2 separate regions of the Homo sapiens genome follow, and region 2 is linked to region 1. A link means that fine-mapping ties the variant in region 1 to the expression of a gene that starts in the linked region. Tissue or cell type: ileum. Region 1 holds a variant in brackets; the other region holds the start of a gene. All regions are shown on one strand. Distances are between the middles of the regions.

Region 1 (10,513 bases):
TGGTCTCGATCTCCTGACCTTGTGATCCACCCGTCTCTGCCTCCCAAAGTGCTGGGATTACAGGCATAAGCCACCGCGCCCAGCAGAGACGGGGTTTCACCATGTTGGCCAGGCTGGTCTCAAACTCCTGACCTCAAGTGATCCGCCCGCCTTGCTCTCCCAAAGTGCTGGGAGTATAGGCGTGAGCCGCTGTGCCTGGCTGACATCCCTTCATGCCAGAAACTCTGAATAAACTAGGTCCTGAAGGAACACACCTCAAAATAACAAGCACCGCCTACCACTGCATCTCTTTCCCTGCAGCTCTTGCCTGAGTGAATCTGCCTGCAGGGTCAGCCCATTCCCGGCCCGTCACTGAATGTGTGTTTACTGAGCTCCTCCTGCATCCCACGTGCTCACAGCTGACAGGGAATCAGAACCCTCCCCTGCAGCTCAGGTCCTGGGTGGAGACAGCCTATCCAGTCCTCCAGGGACCACAAGGTGGGTGTCCTTTTTCTTGACTCCCATAGCAGCTGTGACTGAGATGCAGAGCTGGCACACACCTGGGCATGGCCCCACACGCAGGTGGCATGGGTGCAGTTCTAACCTCTCAGTCCGACTGCAAATGCTGCTCATAACCACAACAGAACATTTGGCCAGAGACTGCTCTCCTCTCGGGAGCCACACTCAGGGACATCACCAGGAAGATACCTCCTATCCCAGGCCCCGTCTCACCATGGCTCTGACAGCAAATGTGGGGGCAGAGGTAGTGCAGGGCAGGCCCTGGGGAGGACCTTGGCCAGTCAGTGGCGCCTTTTCCTGAGGCCCCAGTATGGCTGCCTTGCCAGTCCTTCCTGACTGTCTCTGCCCTCAGCCCCTGAGCCCCAGGCCATCAGTGACTTGGTGGCCCTGGGGAGCAGCCTCTCATCTTTCTGCCTGGCCATCCTTGGCCAGGAGGTCTCCCTGCTGACCACTCCATTCGGGTCTAATTTGGTGCTTCCAGTGTGTCCATGGATGCATTATGATTCAAAAATAATCATCGCACTCATACTCACGGAGTCTGTATCATGTTGCCAGGCTCTGAGTTCAATGCTTTGCATCCTCTATCCCGGTTACGGAAGTGAAAACCACAGAGCCAGAATCTCAGCCCATGTCACTTGGTCCCCAAGGCCTGATGCTACCCTGATTTTCTTGGATGCCGGCTGCCTCACCCAAAAAGTGTGGATTATGTTAGAGTGAAAGTTCCCCAGGAATAAAACCACCCAAAAAAGACCAGAAAGGGTAGAAGAGACATCGATATCATGGCATCCAGATCCAGGAAAATGACAACCAGAGAGCCCAGCCTTTAATGTGAGCTCCCTAGCAGTCAGAGCAAAAAGGGAAAGAGGGGACACATAGGCTTCATCACCTGGAGGAGGGAGCAGCACAGTTTACAGCAGAAATACGCTCTGTCACGTTTCAGAGTGAAGAGTCAGTTGGGGTGACAGCTGTGGAATAGAGGTGCCCCTCAGGGAAGAGGGTCCCTCGCTGCTGTTGCCACATTGTATTAAAATAAAACTATAAAAAAGTGGACAAGGTATCCATGTAGAACTCAATAAGTTTCCACAAAAGCTGAACACCTTCCTAGAACTGGCCCTCAGAACAAGAAATAGAACATTCCGGCACCCCAGAAGCACCCATTTCTAATTGCTACCCACTCCCCACCAAGAGTAACCATGAGCTTGAATTATCCCATCAGACACCAGTTTTGTCTGTTACTGGACTTCATAAAACGCCATCGTAGGCCGTGTCCTCTCATGGCCAGCTCCTTTGGCCCCAGACTATGTTGGCGAGGTTCATCCACTGTGTTGCATGGAATTTGCCCCGTTCGCGGCTGTTGCTGGGTCCTGAATTGTAAGAGTGCAGCGCAGCATGCACACGCACTCAGAGGATTTGGTTTTAAGAGCTGCGTGGGAGGGTGCAATGCAGAAGACAAGTCTTTGTTCTGCACAGTGGGTGGTTGGAGCTCAGAGCTGCTGCCCAAAGCAGAGATCCCGGAAGGGACTGTGCCCTCTGATGGGGGTGGCTAGAAGGCAACCCAGCCGCTGCCAGAAGGAAGGGACTGTGCCCTCTCATGGGGGCAGCTAGAAGGCAACCCAGCCACTGCCAGAAGGAGACAGCAGAGAAATACGTTTGCTGAGTCTGAGATGGGTGATAAAAACATTTCCTTTGAGAAGTGACAACTTCAGGCCCACCATTATCCAGGTGGGAGGCACACATTGGCATCAGTTTTGTGGTCCAGAAAACCACAAGCTGAGCAAGTCACTTAAAGTGGTCCTGAATTGATAGGACCCAGAGCAGCCCGGTGGAAGGAAGTGCAGCAAAACTTCAGACAAAGTCTGTGTCCTCAGCCAAGGCCCTGAGCTCCCCACCTACAGCCGAGGCAAACATGAGCTCACAGCAGAAAACCACAAGCACACAAGGAAAGCAGCCACCGTGGGCAAGAGCCAGCACCCGCAGTCAGAGACACATGGAGACACCAAGGGCCATGAATGAGGACATGAGGAGATAAAATACCAGCTAAATATTTAAAACAATGGGCTCACCCACTGTCTTGGGACCACGAAGGCTCTTCTGAGAGAGAAAGTTTCCTATCCTCAGAGTTTTAGGTGAACATATGGGTAAATCTAATGGGTTATTCTCTTCAAAATGTGTTTGATGTTGTAAACAAAAATCACACCATTCTCTGGTGGGGTTTTCAAAATGAGTATTTGTCATTTATGAGACAAGTGGTCTCTATTGCGGGAAGATTCCTGGATTCCACCTAAATTAGTGAAATATCGATTCTAAGTACACAGTGCAAAAGTAAGCAATATACCCGTACTCTAGAACAACCATTAAAAAGATATAAACAAAGAATATAGTCAAGCTGGTTCTTTGAAAAGATCAACATATTTTTTAAATTTTAGCAAGACTGGCAAGATGAAAAAGAAAGAAGATGCAAATTACCAATATCAGGAATGAGAAAAGGGATATCACTTCGGGTCCCACGGACATTAAAAGGATAATGCAGGAATACTGCACGCCGCATACATTTGGAAACTAAGAGGAAAGGGACCAATTGCTCGAAAGACATGAACCACCAAACTCAAGAAGGAAGAGGGAGCCTGAATATCTCTATCAAGAAACAGAATTTGTAGTTAAAAGCCTTCCCACACAAAAAAACCCTTCAAGGCCAGATGGTTTCATTGGTTAATTCTACATAACCTTCAAGGAACAAATAATCTGAAAGCAAGCAGGAAAAAATATATAAATTTATGGATAAGTGTGTATGTATGCATATAAAATTAGAAATCAATGCAATAGAAAATAGCAAAACAACGGAGAAAATTTATTCAACCAGCCAGGCGTGGTGATTCACGCCTATAATCCCAGCACTTCGGGAGGCCGAGGTGGGTGGATCACTTGAGGTCAGGTGTTCGAGACCAGCCTGGCCAACACGGCAAAACCCCATCTCCACTAAAAGTACAAAAATTAGCCTGACGTGGTGGCCCATGATTGTAATGTAAGCTACTTGGGAGGCTGAGGCAGGAGAATAGCTGAACCCAGGAGGCAGAGGTTGCAGAGAACTGAGCTGAGATCGTGCCACCACACTCCAGCCCGGGCAACAGAGTGAAATTCCATCTCAAAAAAATAAAAAAAATAAAACAAGAAAATTAATTAAACCAAAATCTGGTTCTTTGAAAAGATCAATAAAGATCAATAAATAAAGATCAAAAAAGATAAGCCTGTAGCAAGACAGACAAGAAAAAAGAGCAGACACACATGACCGAGGTGTGTGTGGGATATCACCATGTTGGCCAGGCTGGTCTCAAACTCCTGACCTCAGGTGATCCACCTGCCTTGGCCTCCCAAAGTGCTGGGATTACAGGAGTGAGCGTGCCCGGCCCAAAACTGTTCTATATGATACTGTGATGGTGAATAAATGGCATTCCACGTTCATCATTTGTGTTGTAGAACGTACAACATGAAGAGTGGAGGTGAAGGTTAGGTCTGGACTTTGGGTGCTCACCACGTGTCAATGTTGGCTCATCAATGATGACAAATGGGCCACCCTAGTGTAGGATGCTAACAGCAGGGGACGTTATGTAGGTGTGGCAGCAGGTGAAATACGGTAATTTTCTATACATTCAACTCAATTTTGCTGTGAACCTAAAACTGCCCTAAAACATAGTGTGTTTTCTGAAATACGTCCAAAAATAAAAAGTTATAAATCTAACAAAATATGTACAGAATGCACATGTTATAAATACAAAACACTGATGAAAGGAATCAAAAAATACCTAAATAAGTGGAGAGAGTCGTGCATTCATAGATTTGAAGACACAAAATAATAAAGACGTCAACTTCCCCAAAACTGATGTGCAGATTTAATTGGATTCCAACAACAATCTTAGCAGGATTTTTTGGTAGATATTCATAAGCTGTTTATGAAATTTATGAGGAAAGGCAAAAGAAAATAGAATAACCTCAAGGATCTAGAACTAGAAATACCATTTCACCCAGCCATCCCATTACTGGGTATATACCCAAAGGATTATAAATCATGCTGCTATAAAGACACATGCACACGTATGTTTATTGCAGCACTATTCACAATAGCAAAGACTTGGAGCCAACCCAAATATCCATCAATGATAGACTGGATTAAGAAAATGTGGCACATATACACCATGGAATACTATGCAGCTATAAAAAATGATGAGTTCATGTCCTTTGTAGGGACATGGATGAAACTGAAAACCATCATTCTCAGCAAACTATCGCAAGGACAGAAAACCAAACACCACATGTTCTCACTCATAGGTGGGAACTGAACAATGAGAACACTTGGACACAGGAAGGGGAACATCACACACTGGGGCCTGTCGTGGGGTGGGGGGAGGGGGGAGGGAGAGCATTAGGAGATATACCTAATGTAAATGACGAGTTAACGGGTACAGCACACCAACATGGCACATGTATACATATGTAACAAACCTGCACGTTGTGCACATGTACCCTAGAACTTAAAGTGTAATAAGAAAACATTTAAAAAAGAAAAGAAAATAGAATAGCCAAAACAATTTTGAAACAAGAAATATAGTTGGAAGAATGACATTAGCTGACTTTGAGACATTCCATAAAGCGACAGCAATGTAGACAGTGTGGTATGGGCAGAGGGGTAGACACACAGATCAAGGGAAAAGCACGGAGTTGAGATGTCACTCGCACACACAAGACTGCGCTAATTTATGACAAAGGGGCAAGACAACTAAATGGAGAAGTGTCTGCTGCAATCACAAAATACCTGTGACTGGGTATTTTACAAACAATAGAAGTACATTTCTCACAGTTTTGGAGGCTAGACGTCCCCAGATCAAGGTGCCAGTATTCTGCATCTGGTGGAGGCTCTTTGCTGTGTCCTTTTGGTGGAAAACATAAGGGGCAAAAAGGACCCAAGCTCATCCCCCCCAGCCCTTTAATGAGGCACTAATCTATGCCTGAGAGCAAAGCCCTGACTTGATCACTTCTCAAGAGACCCCACCTCTTAGTAACACCATAACAGGGGTTAAGTTACAGCGCATGAATTTTGGGGAACGCATTCATACCAGCGCGCGAAAGGAGAACCGTTTCCAAAAAATGGCATTGGAACAATTGAACCGCCGTAGACAAAACGAAAACAAAACCTCAACCTCAACCTCATACTTTATATAAAATTAACTCTATGCCCATCATAGACCTAAATGTTGAATATAAAACAATAAAACATTTGGAATAAAACAGGAGAAAGTCTTAGTGACCTTGAATAATAAAAACACACTGTGTAAGAAATAATAATGTGAGTGAAATTCAGTGTCCTTTAAAGATAAAAGGTCACGTCATAAGGAGAGAGACACACTTGGCAGTGCTCCTGGTTGCTGGTGGAGGACCAAGTGAGTCCTTATTTAGAAGGGACATTTTTTTTTTCTGTGCCATTTTCTTCATCGAACATTTAGTCCTTTGAAAGCTTGTGATTATCTTATGTTCAAATGCTATGAAATAATAAAGTCACAGGGCAGTCCCACTGCAGCGTGACAATGAGGGGGAACTCCAGAGATCCACTTCCATG[T/TGGG]GAAACTGGTGAAGACTTTAAAAACAAAAACAAACGAAACCCCACCCCCAACAACCATTTAAAGCATCTGCAAATGGCCCTGTAGCCATTTCAAATAGAGAAACATTTATTCAAGAAAATCGACTAAAGCTTAGTGAGAACTGTGTGAGTCTGTGGTATCTGAGCCAATGCGTGTGCCCTCTCCCAGCCCAGTGAGACAGAAGCTCCACTCCAGGCTGTACAGCCAGGAATGCAAGACTATCTCTCCTCCAGTTTCTGTAATTGCCCGACAGGCTCTTCCCGCCCGCTGCACAGACAAAACCAGTTCACTCTGAGAACATGGTATTGCAGTAAATGAAATGTTTAATTAACGCAAGGCCTGCCAGGTGGAAGAACTGGAATGATCACTCAAACCCGTCTCCCTGAAGGCTTGAAGGTTAGGGTTTTTCCAGGACAGTGTGGTGGGTGGGGGGCTGGGGAATGGGTGCTCCTCATTGGTTGCGGGGGCAATCACAGGGGTGTGGAAAATGGTCCTTGTGCCCTGAATCTGCCTCTGGGTGGATAACAACCCCAAAGTGAAAGCAACCCAGACATCCTTCAACGGGTGAACGGTTAAACAAGTCGTGAGTCACGAGTCTGCATGGGGTCAGTTGGAAAACCACCTCAAAAGACCAATCTTAATTCTACCACAGTGATATTATCTATAGGAGCAACTGGGGAAGCCACAAATCTTGTGATCTCTGGACAAATGACTCCTAAGCAGAGGGGGATTATAGAAACTATGCCTATATTTTAGCAGAACTCATGCCCTCCTGTAATTCTAATCTTGTGGTCTTTCATTAGTCCTATAAAGGCAGTTTCAGCTCCCCAAAAAGGAGGGGATTTGTTTTAGGGCGGGACCGTTATCATCCTTGCTTACAAGTTAAACTATAAACTAAATTCCTCCCATGGATATAATAGAGGCAGGAGGCAGACAAATCCCAGGCAGATGGGGGTGGGTCCCCAGTGAAACCTCACCTTCAAGCCAAAACATCCTGAAACCTGCAGCCCAGAGTGAAAACTTCTATTCTTGTTTGCCTGCTCGCTCCGGATTGGTTCATTTTGAATAATGCCTTTTTAACCAATCAAATACTGCCTTTTCCAATACTACCTATGGCCTGGCCTGCCCCCGTCCTGGGCCTATAAAGACTCCAGACTCAGTTGGTAGAGAGAGAGAGAAGGCCTGACTTCAAGGAAGAGATCTCCTGACTTTGGGGAAGACGACCTGCCCTCCCTGTCCCCTTTCCAGTTCCCCTCTCTGCTGAGAGCTGTTTTCATTGCTCAGTAAAAGTCTCCACTTTCACCATCCTTCAATCACCAGCATGACCTCATTCTTCTTGGACGCTGGACAAGAGCTCAGGACCCACAGAGTGCAGGTACCTAGAAAGGATGTCACCCGGGCCCTTTGCCCTCGCCAGCAGAGGGCAGCTGCCCCACGCGATGAGGCCAGGGGCCGACCGAGCTGCTAACACATTGCCCTCCATTGGGATGTGGATGGTGGAACTATAAGAGCTGATTAGAGCACTAACACCCCCTCTGGGGCTTCGGGGTTGCGGGCACCCTTGTCTGGGCACTGCCATGTTCTCCTCGAGGTGACACACCTGGTCTGGCTGTGGGCCCCACGTGGAGTTTGCTCCCGTGTCAGCGTTCAGAGTGGCTGGCCAGATCCCACACTTGCTCGCTCATGCACTCCCTCCCGCAAGGGGCTGAGCATGCTGGGCCAAGTAGATGAGGAGCCTCTGCTGTGAGTCCAGCAAAGAGGCTGAGAAAAAATCCTGCATCAGTTAGCTTGGCCTGAGTCCAGGAATAAGCAAGGACAACCAGCCTATGAGCCAGAAGCAAGATGGAGTCAGCCATGCTAGACCTCTCTCGCTGTCAAAAGGTAGTTTCACTTCCAGTTGGTGAGGCTCTCTTCCTGTGAGGGTCAGTGTGCTAGCATCCTGCCCCCAGCTACCTGTGTCTCAGGCTGAATTCTGAGTGAGTGTGTCCGAGAGGTGAGGGTCCCTTCCTCTACTCAGCCTCAGGTCTCACTCATGCAGCAAAGGCTGCCCTGGGTTCATCATGCTGAGAATCCTGGGTCTCGGGTCTCTGGTCACCTTTGCTCCAGCTTATGGGAGGGGTTCATGCTGAGAGAGGCAAGCTGAGGACACCTGGAGCTGCTGCCCATCACTCAAGTGTCCAGCTTCTAAAGTAGGCATGACACCAGTGAGCCAAGATCCCTGCCGTCAGTTCCAGAGCTGTGGCTTAGAGATTTTGTCCAGGGAGAATGGCAGGATGTAGAACAGAGGATCTCCTAGTCTCTCCCAAAAGGAACTGACTTCATTTGCAACAGAGTATGAAGTTCAAACCTAAGGGTGCTCTCAGAGTCAGTGGCGGTTGTGGTGAAGGGCAACTGGGAGAAGATTGATAGATTCTTTAGAGACGTAGCCTAACTCTAAGATGGCTAGTTTTCTGGAGAGAAATGGAGAAAGAGAGAGCTGGGAAGAGACTTTCTGGGTTAGTAAGAAATCTCAAGCACTGGCCTTTCCTTTCAAAGGAGTCAGAATTTGATTGGATTAGTCTGTGAAGCAATTTATTCCCTAGGGTGATGTCAAAAACAATCGAGCAACCAGCTTGCAATGACGAATTTAGCAGCTGGGTTTGGTCAGGGAAAGAGACGAAGAGAGCCTTCCCACACCCCCATCATATCAAGGTGGACCTGCCCACTACTTCTCAGGGGAAACAGACTTTACTGCAGTATTCCAGTCATTGCAGCTTTCACCTAAAAGCTTTCACACAATTGCTTTGGGCTATTCATAATAGCCCCACACTGAAAATCCAGGCGTCCTTCAATGGGCGAACAGTTAAATAAGTTGGGGCTCGTTCAGCTTATGGAATATGTTTAGCAAGAAAAAGGAATGAACTATTGATACATACCACAGCCTGCTAATCTCCAGAGAATCATGCTGAATGAAAAATAAAAAGCCAATTCAAAAGGTTACATGCTGTTTTATTTCAGTTACATAACATCCTTGAAATGAAAACTTTATAGAAATGGATAACCAATTAGTGTCTCCTAGGGTTTATCGCCCAGGGTTCCGGCAGTGATGAATGTGGTCTGTGTTTTGAAAATATCGATGCCAATATTCTGATTGTGATATTGTTCCGTAGTTTTGCAAGGAGTTACCATTGAGGGAACTGGATAAAGGGTTCATGATATTCTATTATTTCTTACAACTGCATGCAAACCTAAAATAATCTCAAAATAAAAAGATTAATATATTAAAAAAAGAATTAGGATACTTCTGCTTTGGGTCAAGATAGAGCAACAGAGAATAAATATACAATTGTAAATGTAAAACAACAACAACAAAACCAAGACAAACACATTATTCTCAAGAGGTAGACAACAGACAAGAAAGGACTGGGAGGTGAGCCCTGGGACGTGAGCCCTTCAGTGGCCCCAGGTTTCAGCCCTCAGAGTGTTTCCAGGTCATGGCGCAGGGAGAGGAGACCCCGGGGAAGCTCAGTGTATTCCTTGAGTTGAGCATTTGTGAAGACCAAGGCAGCCCGAGGTCACAGGGCAGAGCATCGGAGAGTGGAGCGCTGCACAGGGAGCTGGGAGACATGCGGAGGGTCCCCTCTTCAGTCCTCAGCAGGGCACTGAATGGCACATGCGTGGGAGAGAACTACTTGAAGCCAGGGAAAGAACCAGCAGAGAGGACCAAAGGGAACTGTGCCAGGCGCGCACACAGGGCTGGGGACAGTGACTGACCCCAGCAGAAAGGCTGGAAAATTCCACAATTCATGGAGCATGTGGGTGGAATATTGAGAAGGGTCTCAACAGTGGAGAATAAATAACCTTCTACTAAGAATCTTCCCTCCATAATTGCTAGAAAAAGCAGATGGAAACTAAATAAGAACACAGGGCCGGGTGCGGTGGCTCACTCCTGTAATCCCAGCACATTGGGAGGCCGAGGCGGGCGGATCACGAGGTCAGGAGATCGAGACCATCCTGGCTAACACGGTGAAACCCCGTCTCTACTAAAAATACAAAAAATTAGCCAGGCGTGGTGGCGGGTGCCTGTAATCCCAGCACATTGGGAGGCCGAGGCAGGCAGATCATGAGGTCAGGAGATCGAGACCATCCTGGCTAACACGGTGAAACCCCGTCTCCACTAAAAATACAAAAAATTAGCCGAGCGTGGTGGCGGGCGCCTGTAGTCCCAGCTACTCGGGAGGCTGAGGCAGGAGAATGGTGTGAACCCGGGAGGCAGAGCTTGCAGTGAGCCGAGATCGCGCCACTGAGTTCCAGCCTGGGCGACAGAGCGAGACTCCGTCTCAAAAAAAAAAAAAAAAAAAAAAAAGAACACAGAAGGCTTGAACAACGCTTTAAACCAGCAGGATGTA
Region 2 (9,256 bases), 45 kb after region 1:
GAATTGGCCCATGTGGGTGGGGGGGGTGGATGGATGGCTGGACGGGTGGATGGACACGTGGGGGCAGGCAAGGACACACTGTCTAGTTCATACCACTGCATGCGGGCCTCCGCCCTGCTCACGTGTGCTGGCTTGAATGTTGTTTTGTTTCTATTTGTTTTGTGAACAGATGAGGGAACAGGGGCTCAGTGAGGCAAGATGGCTTGTCTGTCCCAAGAGCTCGGATTTTAGCCAAGACCTTCTGAACCTAGGGCCACCCCGCGTCCTTGGTGTAGGGTGCAGGTCAGGAGACCTGCAGCTGGGTGACCAGATGGATGCATTCCCAGGCGTGGGGTCCACAGCCAGCCAGTTCCGTCCTCCCTTCTGCCCAGGATGGAGACAGGTCACCTTGCACCCACTCCCAGGTATGCCCCAAAGCCTCTCTGCCCTGGCTGCCCCCGCCCACCGCAGGAAGGACACAGGAGGAGCAGGCTTGGGAGGAGGTGTAATGAGCCGTCCCTGACCCTCAGAAGGGTCAACCTCACACCACCCCCAACCCCTGCAGAAACCCGGCACCATCCAGAAATCCCTGACCTACCTACAACCCGAGCCAGATGGGCCTGCCCCATGCCAGCCGGCCAGCCACAGCCTGAGCCAAGCGGGAGGAGGGACAGCTTCCGGACGGGAGCCCAGGCAGCCAGACCCATGTCCGCAGGCTGTTGGCAGGGCACAGAGAGAGGGGAGGCAGAGCTCCACCAGCTGCAGCTTCAGCCCCCCAACACTGGAGCTTTCTGCTCAGGATTGGTCTGGGGAGCCACAGCTGGAGCTGGTCGGAAGCATGACCTCCAATTCCAGGGGCCCTTTTCCTTTGTTGCTTCTACACACACACACACACGCAGGAATACTCACCACCACACACACATGCTCTCACACACTTGTGCACACACATTTACACGTACCATGCACACTCACGTATGATTACACACGCATGCACAGTCAGGTACATACATCACACATGCACACACTCACACACACTTGTGCACACACATTTACATGAACCACACACGTGTGATTACACACATGCACATGCAGGTACAGACAACACACAGGCACACACCCTCACACACTTGTGTACACACATTTACACGTGCCATGCACACTCGTGCGATTACACACACATGCACACACTCAGGTACATACACACAGCACACATGCACACACCCTCACACACCCGTGCACACACATTTATACGTGCTATGCACACTCACGTGTGATTACACACACGTGCACACTCAGGTACATACAGACAGTACACAGGCACACCCCACACACACTTGTGCACACACATTTATACGTGCCATGCACACTCATGTGTGATTACACACACGTGCACACTCAGGTACATACAGACAGTACACAGGCACACCCCACACACTTGTGCACACACATTTACATGTGCCATGCACACTCACGTGTGATTACACACGTGCACACAGGTACATACAGCGCACATGCACATACCCTCACACATTGTGCACACACATTTACACACACCATGCACACATGCAATTACACACACATGCACACAGGTACACACACCACACATGCACACACGCCCTCACACACTTGTGCACACACATTTACACACACCATGCCCACCCACGTAATTACACACATGCACACATATGCATTCACATGTACACACATGCAAATACACTCCTGCCTACACACAGTCATACACATGCACACACATGCACACACAAAAATATATGTACACACTCATGCACACAATGCATTCACATGCACACATAGTTACACTCACAGTACATGCCCACTTATGCAATTACACGTGAGTACACACATACACTGACACGTGCTGGCTCACACACAGGCCCCTGTGTCAGAGCCCAGGGATGGATCCGCAGGCCCGAGGTTGAAGGTGCCCGTGCCAGTGGGCAACGCCGGGGTTGGCAATCATGATGAGTCAGGAGCAGGAGGGGAACGCCGACCGCAGTTGCGATGCCGGGCGGGGTGGGGCTCGAGCTCAAGGATGGAGCAGAGGCGAAGCTGGCCAGGCGTCCTTCCTCCCAGCCAGCCTCTGCCCAGCCTCTTCTCTCCCTGCATCCCCTGTCTTCTCCCCCACCCGGCAGGGCAGCTGCATTGGTGGAGTACATCTGGCCTTGGCCACTCAAGTCTGGGCTGGGGAAATGTGATGATGAGGCTAAACGTGAGCCAAGCCCTTCCTTCCGGTGCGTCGGGGTGGGGAGGAGGGCACCGGGGCCTGCCCTCGCCCTCACGCTCCCTTCCCCAGGAAGGGCTCCAGCACCAGACACATTGACACACGGCTGCCCCTCTCACTGTGAGCCCATCACAGCCTCCCTCCCACCATCTCAGTCCCTGCTGCTCCACCTTGCCCTCAGGGGGACAGGGTCATGTCTGCCCAGCACCTGCTCTGCTACCAGCCAGCTCTTCTCGCAGCCCTGAGCTGGGGAGGTGCAGGACCTGTTTACACCCCTCTTCCCTGGGCTGCCCTGGCCACCCAGGTCTGGTCTCCACGCAGGGCTTGGCAGAGCTGTGTAAGCACCTGCCCTTGGGCTCCGGGTGAGGAGCTGGATAAGAAGGTGGCCCCTCTTCCTTTCCATAGGGGTAGGATTCCAAGCCCTCTTCAGCCCCACGCTGGCCCCATCCCTGCACACGGAGAAGTGGCTGCTGCCCAGGTCTACGTCCCATGTCCCCTGAGCCTGAGCAACCCCGCCCCCCTCAACCCCCGCTCCCAGCCCCTCCTGCAGGTTCCGCTGAGCTGGCTGAGCAGAAAGCCAGGCCCTGATGGCTCAGGAGAGGGAAGGGCAGACCCCTGCCCGCCCAGACCTAGCCAGTACCCCGACCTCTCTGGGACCCACCATCAGGACCCCTCACTGTCCTTTGATCCCTTGGCCCCTCAACTGCACCTGTTCTACCCGTGTGCTCCCCTGAGAGGGAGAGGGGCCGAGCGCCCACAGCCAGGGACTGTCCTGCCGGCACCACCTCTCTAGCCCGCCCTTGCCCCCTGCCACCGCCCGGGCTCACTTTGAGGGAGTAGGCCAAGGCGATGAAGCCCAGGCAGCAGAAGTTGAGGTAGACGAAGTTGAAGATGGACCACAGGTAATAGTCGTTCACCTCGGTGGTGTCCGGGTAGACCTCGATGACGGTCGTGGGGTTGGTCATCGTCTTCTTCTCGGCTAGGTGCTTGCAGGCAGGGGGCGCGCCGGCAGCCCGCACGCTGTCGGTCTTGCTGCTCTTGGACTCCATGGGGAACAGTGTGGGCGCCATCGGGGGAGAGGCCGAGGGCTCAGGGGCAGGGGCCGCCGGAGCCTGCAGGGCAGGGGGCTTGGACACGCAAGCGAAGCAGCCCTTGGGCGAACCTGCCGGGGGCCTCGGAATCCAGAAGGCCCCGTCCAGGGGGACTCGGGCTTCCTGGGCGCCGTCCGTGGTGCTGGCCGGGTCTCCCAGCGGGGCTGGGCACTGGCCGGGGCCCTGGGCCTGGAGAGGAGAAAGTGAGAGCAAGCTGGGCCCGGCCTACCGGCCAGCACCCACCCTCACGCCCAGCAGCTCCGAGAACAGCCCCAGTGGAGACGGAAATCCCTGCGGGGGCCGCCAGCTGCCAGCCTGCCACCTGCCTCCCCCACCCGCCCCGGGCCTCGGCGGCCACGGACGATGCCAAAGCCCTTCGCAGCAGCCTTGGCAGGGACCTGGGGCTTTCATCACTTCGCCATCTGCGCATAAACACTCACCCACTGACACACACAACAGCACCCCCCGCCCCGAAGCACACCAACGCTGAGACTGACACTGTTGCAAAACACAGAGTGCCCCAGCACCCCAAACAACCCCGCACACACGGGGCGCCGGACCCACAGCGACGCTGCCTCAGCCGCCAACCGGCAGAGCTAGCAGAGCGGCCAAAGCACCTGCCCACGGCGCCCGCGGACACCCGATACCGCCACGGGCACCGCCACGGGCTCCACCGCGGGCTGCACCGCGGGCTCTCCAGACCCCGGGGCGCACCCGCGGGCGCGCTCAGAGCCATTGACGAGTAAACAACTCCCCACACAAGGCGATGCAGGCTCAGCCACGAGCACCAAGAACCGGCACAGGTGCGGGGTCTCCAACTCGTGCGCACCGCCCCCCACCTCCAACCTGGGGACCCCAAGCGCGCACACTTGCCCGGAGCCACGCACCCCCGGGCCATACATAGACGCACAATAACAGGCTGTGAAATGAACACTTCTCCAACGAGGCACCAAGTCGCTCGCGCTCTGCGCCACCCCGCGTTCCCAGCTCCCGTGCGGCGCTCGCCGGGGGGTCTGCGGCCGAGGCTCTGCAGCCCCCAGCCCCATCCGGGTCTGCCGCAGCCCCCCGGACGGCGCCTCCTCACCTACAAGCGACTCCTCGGCGCGCGGCCGGACCCCCTGAGCCTCGGTGCGCGCGTCCTTCCGCCGTCCCGCGGGCCGCTGTCTGTCCACTGATCCGCCTCCCAGCGGCCCAACCTTGAGGGGGTGGGGAGCGCGCGGGGCTCGGCGGCGGCGCCGCTGCCTCCCCCGCCGCCTGCGCTCCCTCCGCAGCGCCAGACCGGCCGCGCGGCTGCAGCCCAGAGCCTGACTCACGGCGGCAGCGGGCACAGCCACCTCCCCGCCTCCGCCTCCTCCTGCCAGGAGGGTGGGGGCCTCGGAAGCCGCGACCCTGGGGAGTTGCAAGGTCCCGCAGGGATGGGACCCCTACAGCCCCCGACCAGGGTGTCCGCGCCACCTCCATCTCCCCGGACCCACTGCGTCTTCCTCCCCACCCCACCCGGCCCCATCCCTCTCGCGGAGCCCCCAGCCCCGTGGAAGACTGGACGCTCCCGGAACCCTCCCCATCTGCCTCCCCAAGAGAGACCCTCTTCCTCTTCCCACTCTCCCCATGGCGCTCCACCCCAGCGCCTGGGCCCTGCTGCCTCCAGGGACCCCCGCCCCTGGGTCCTGCCCTTCTGGCCTGTTGACTCTCAGTTCCAGCAGCTCAGTCCCCTCCTGACGAAGCTCCAGTCCCCTGAGCCCCAGCAGGCCCCCTACCTGACTGCCCGTCTCTGCCCCATCCTGTCCCTAACCAAGTCCACAAGGCCCCCAAGACCACCCTCCAGTCCCTTCCCTCCTTAGCCCACCAAGTCCAGGCCTTCCGGTAAGTTTCAGCACCCCCTACTCTGTTCCTTCCTGGCTGAGCCCACTCCTGCCCATCGGAGCTCCTGCCCCCTTTCCTGGAGTCTGACTTCACCCAGCCGGGGCCCCACTCCAGTTCACTCCCAGAGTCTGGGAGAATGTGGCCTCTCCTGCGCAGACCCCAGGTCATGCTCCATCTGCTCGCAGGGCAAAGTGTCCCGTTCCGAGCTCTGGTCCTGTGCTGAGGTCCTGGCTGCTAAGGACACTTGTCTCCCTGGAGGCTGGTTTACTCACCTGCCCACAGCCTCTCTGTGATCCCTACCAGCCCTTCTGAGCCTGGTCCCCTGAGGATACTTTGTTCCCTGTGAATCATTTTTCCTGACCAATGCCTGTCCTCCCAGCCTCAGCCGCCTCCGCTACCCCACCACATCCTCACTCTCACGGTATGCTTGACGCCAGCTGATCTTCCATCCCCATAACAGTCCCCATGAGTTCCTCCCCATGGAGAAAACTCCAGCCTTCCCTCCCTCCCTCCAAGTCCCCCACTTCACCACGCAGGTTCCCTGAGCTGGGTCCTCTTCACCAACCTCCAGCTCCCACTGAGCCTCGACCCTCTCCAAAGTCCCCCGGAAGCTGAGGATGCATGGCGGCCCCCGTTTTCCCTCCCTCATCTCTCTCCAAGCCCCATCCTCCCATGAAACTCCTTTCTCCTCTGCCACTCTCAACTGGCCTCCTGTGTCTCCGCAACCCTCTTTCCTGTCTGGAAGGCCAGTCCTGCTTGGGGTCCTGTCTGCCTGCCTGTGCCTGACTCTGAACCCTTTCTCTCCCCAAACCTCTGTTCTGAACCCTAATCCCCTGGAAAAGCCCAGCCCTCTGCAAGCCCCTCCTCTTTCCAGCCTAGTCCCCGCCCCTCATGCCTGGGCTGACCCGGGCACAGTGTTATCCACAGCACGCCAGGAACCCACAGCACAAGGCTGATCTTAAATGATGTTGATAAACCCTAACGAGCAGGAGGGGTCATGAAGCATGAGGAGCCTCCTCCTCGTCTCCTTGGGCACCCTGGCCATGCTCTCCCTGGAGCCCACAGGCCGTGGGTGGATGGGGCCTGTCGGAGAACCAGGGTTCCGTTCTCCCTCCCCAACTCCCTCCTCCTTTCCAAGGGCCTGGCCCAGGGAAAACTGGACCCGGTGTCCTCAGACGGGGCCTGATCCCAGGCTGAGTGTGGCCTGTGTGCCATGCCCCCATGTCTCCCCAGCATCTGAGCTGGGCTTACCCGGCCAGCCACCACCTTCTGGGAGACCCTGGCCTGCCACACAGCCTCTGCCCAGTGCTGCCCCACCCCAGTTTGCCCTGAAGGCCTCAGGCAGTGAGGAGGCCTCCATAGCAGGAGAGGGTTGCCTGGGCCCGAGGGTCCAGGGCCTGCCCAGGGTCACTGGGTAGGTGACAGGGGAGCCAGGGCCTGCTCCCGGCCTCAGGCCACCTTGGGGCTGCCTCTGAGGCCAGGAAACACCACTGAGAGGGAGCCAGGGGTCGCAGGGCAGAGCCAGGGCCGAGCCAAACTTGGCACAGCCAGCATTCATGTGACTGTTGGTGGGCTCCCCAAGGGCCTGGGCTCCAGCTTCCCCTTTGCTAGGGGTTTCTGGTTACAACCCACAGTCTAGACAGGGGGGGACTCCAGGCTCAGGGTCCAGTCACCAGCTAGAAAACCACGGAGGAACCCGGGGTCAGACTCCAGGGCCCCGAGAATCCTGCCGGGCTGGAGGGAGCCCTCGGAGCAACCCCAGGGCAGCAGCCATGAAGATGGGAGCTGGACGGAGCTGACAAGCTGCAGAAGGAGGGAGATGGGGAGAGTGGGACAGGGCAGGGACAACAGGGTATGGCTGCCTCCTTGTACCTCTCTGCCCTCCCAGGCCTCAGTGCACAAAGCATCTGATGACAGGACATTTGTCTCCCCAGAAGCCCTGCCAGGCCCTGCAGAGTTCTGCCCAGCTCTGCTCAGATTTCAGGCATGCCAAACGCCAGGCATGTGTTTCCAAGCCTCCGTGCCACCCTGGGTAAATGTTCTTGCTCCAGGTGTCTGCCGTAGCATGGCTCTGGGGTGAAAGCCCTGCAGCCCCTTGGGAGGAAGGCCAAGGCAGCCACCACCCTCAGGCAGAGGCATCAAGATAATGGCAAATGTCACATCTGCCTCATCTTCTAACCTGTTGGGGTGGGGCTCGAGGGGGCTCTAAGTGACTCCAGAGCTACTGATCCCAAAAGGAACTCTGCTCCCACCACCACATGCCCACAAACTCCTACTTACCTATTAGAACCCCAGGGGCTGCTACCACTGCATCCGGGCACACGCTCCCAACCCCTCCCCTCCCAGCGGAACAAGCGCACCGCGTTATCAGCCCGGGGATCCGTGACTGTGGCAGCTGTGGCTGGAGGGGACTTCTGAGTCCAATCCCTGCAACCAGGGACCCTGGGCAGGCTTGCTTGGTGCCAGCTCAGCTCACTGCACACAAAACCGCTTCTAGGGCCTGGGAGGCAAGAAGGCCCAGCTAGGCCAGCCCCCCCACGCCACCTGGGGCCATTTATTTCCCGGGACAAGAGGGCTGAGGAGGGTGACTGGTAGGCCTGCTCTGAGGGTCCCCGAGAGCAGAAATAGCCTCTGTTCGAGTGCCGTGGCTGCCTGGCTGGGCCACCTCCCTGAAATCACTCCTCAAGGCTGGCACTCACACTAGACACCCTGAAACCCCAGCCAAGGCCACATCCTGCCGGCTACTGCTCCAGACCTGGGAACAAGTCAGTCCCCGCTGGCCGACCAGGCTGGAGCCCATGGGCTGGGCAGGGCAGGGCAGGGGGCCATAGGCCCGGGGCACCCCAAATGCTTGTCCCGGTGCTGCCGAGTCAGCTGCCGTGCTGGCTTCGCACTACCCACCCTCCTTCCCCATCCCAAGTTGGAGCCACCCCTGACCAGGCACAAGAGCACACCAGCACAGAGGGGAGGCCGGAGGCCAACAACTGTATTTCCATGTCAGCTGGGGCTCTCAGCCGCCCAAGGGGAGGACAACAGAGGTCAGCTGCAGAGGAAGGCTGGCACCAGCCCCCAATCCCAACCCCACCTCCAGGCCAATACATGCCCCTGGGACTGGCTCAGTCCCAGCACCACCCTGCAGGCTCCAACAAGGTGGGTTTTGTCCCCTCTCACTCCTTCCAGCTCATCCTCAGGCCTCTAGCGGCCTCATCCTCAACGGGCCCGGGACACTGAACAGGTAGGGTGGCAGAGCCCAGCTGGGCCCAAGCTGGGCAGAGGGGCCCTCAGGCAGGGCAGGTTTCCAAGGGAGGGCCCGGGAGGACGGCCTGGTGTGGGGTAGGGGCTCAGCCCAGCGGGCGCTGGTAGGGCCGGGGAGGGGACTCCCTGGAGATGAAGGGAGCCCCAGGATACACGAGCTCGGCTGCCAAGCTTGGGTGGGGTCTTCCAATGCACGAAACAGATCTGTGCTCTGGATCAGCTCTACCCCCACCAAACAGATGGAGAGACAGACAGGCAGGCAGCATTTCTGAACCCAGGGAGGGGAAAACCACAGAACAAAACAGCAAGTCGGGCTTGGGCCGCCGGCTTCCAGGGCGCCCAGGACAGTGGGCGGGCGAGTGTGTGGGTGTGTGTGGGAGGGGCCGCTGGGCCAGGGGCCTCCTGCTCTGGGACTCTCCTCTGTTTCTGTGCTGGCGCGCGGACGCCTTGGGAACTAGAGGCGGGCAGCCTCGGCGAAGCCCACCCTGTTGTTGTCACGGTCAAACACAGTGTAGTAGCGGCCGATGAAGACGTCGCCCAGGATCCAGAGTGGCCCGCTGGGTGGCGGGATGTCCATGCCCATGAAGCCGCTCAGGCAGAGGGTCTTCCCGGCCTGCGACACCTGGGACGGCCCTGGTGGTCAGTACCCAGGCCTAGCACCACCCGCCCCCCCACCTGTTGCCCGCTCACCTGGAGCGTGCGCCCCCTCACCGCCCGCTCACCTGGGGCGTGCGGCACCCCATTGCCCGCTCACCTTGAGCGTGTAGTCCTCTGGGGACAGCTTGTAGCCTTTGCCTCCCAGCTTCAGTGTGATCGCGGGCAGGGTGGA

The links. PIP is the estimated chance that this variant, and not a neighbour inherited with it, causes the effect.
Region 2: it holds the start of IFITM10, and the variant in region 1 is fine-mapped to the expression of IFITM10 in ileum (GTEx, PIP 0.98).

The regions. Positions count from the first base shown.
Region 1 is chr11:1,699,238-1,709,750 of GRCh38, forward strand. No RefSeq gene overlaps it. Among named protein-coding and RNA genes, the nearest start is that of KRTAP5-6, 7.3 kb to the left of the region's middle. The variant T/TGGG (reference allele first, on the strand shown) is at 6,107.
Region 2 is chr11:1,744,622-1,753,877 of GRCh38, forward strand. IFITM10 (interferon induced transmembrane protein 10) reads right to left here and starts at 5,974. Exons shown (of 3, transcript NM_001170820.4): 1 at 5,738-5,974; 2 at 3,046-3,498. The coding sequence starts at 5,821. CTSD (cathepsin D) reads right to left here. Exons shown (of 9, transcript NM_001909.5): 8 at 9,182-9,256; 9 at 8,134-9,049. The coding sequence ends at 8,882. RefSeq lists enhancers at 4,274-5,029, 5,030-5,785.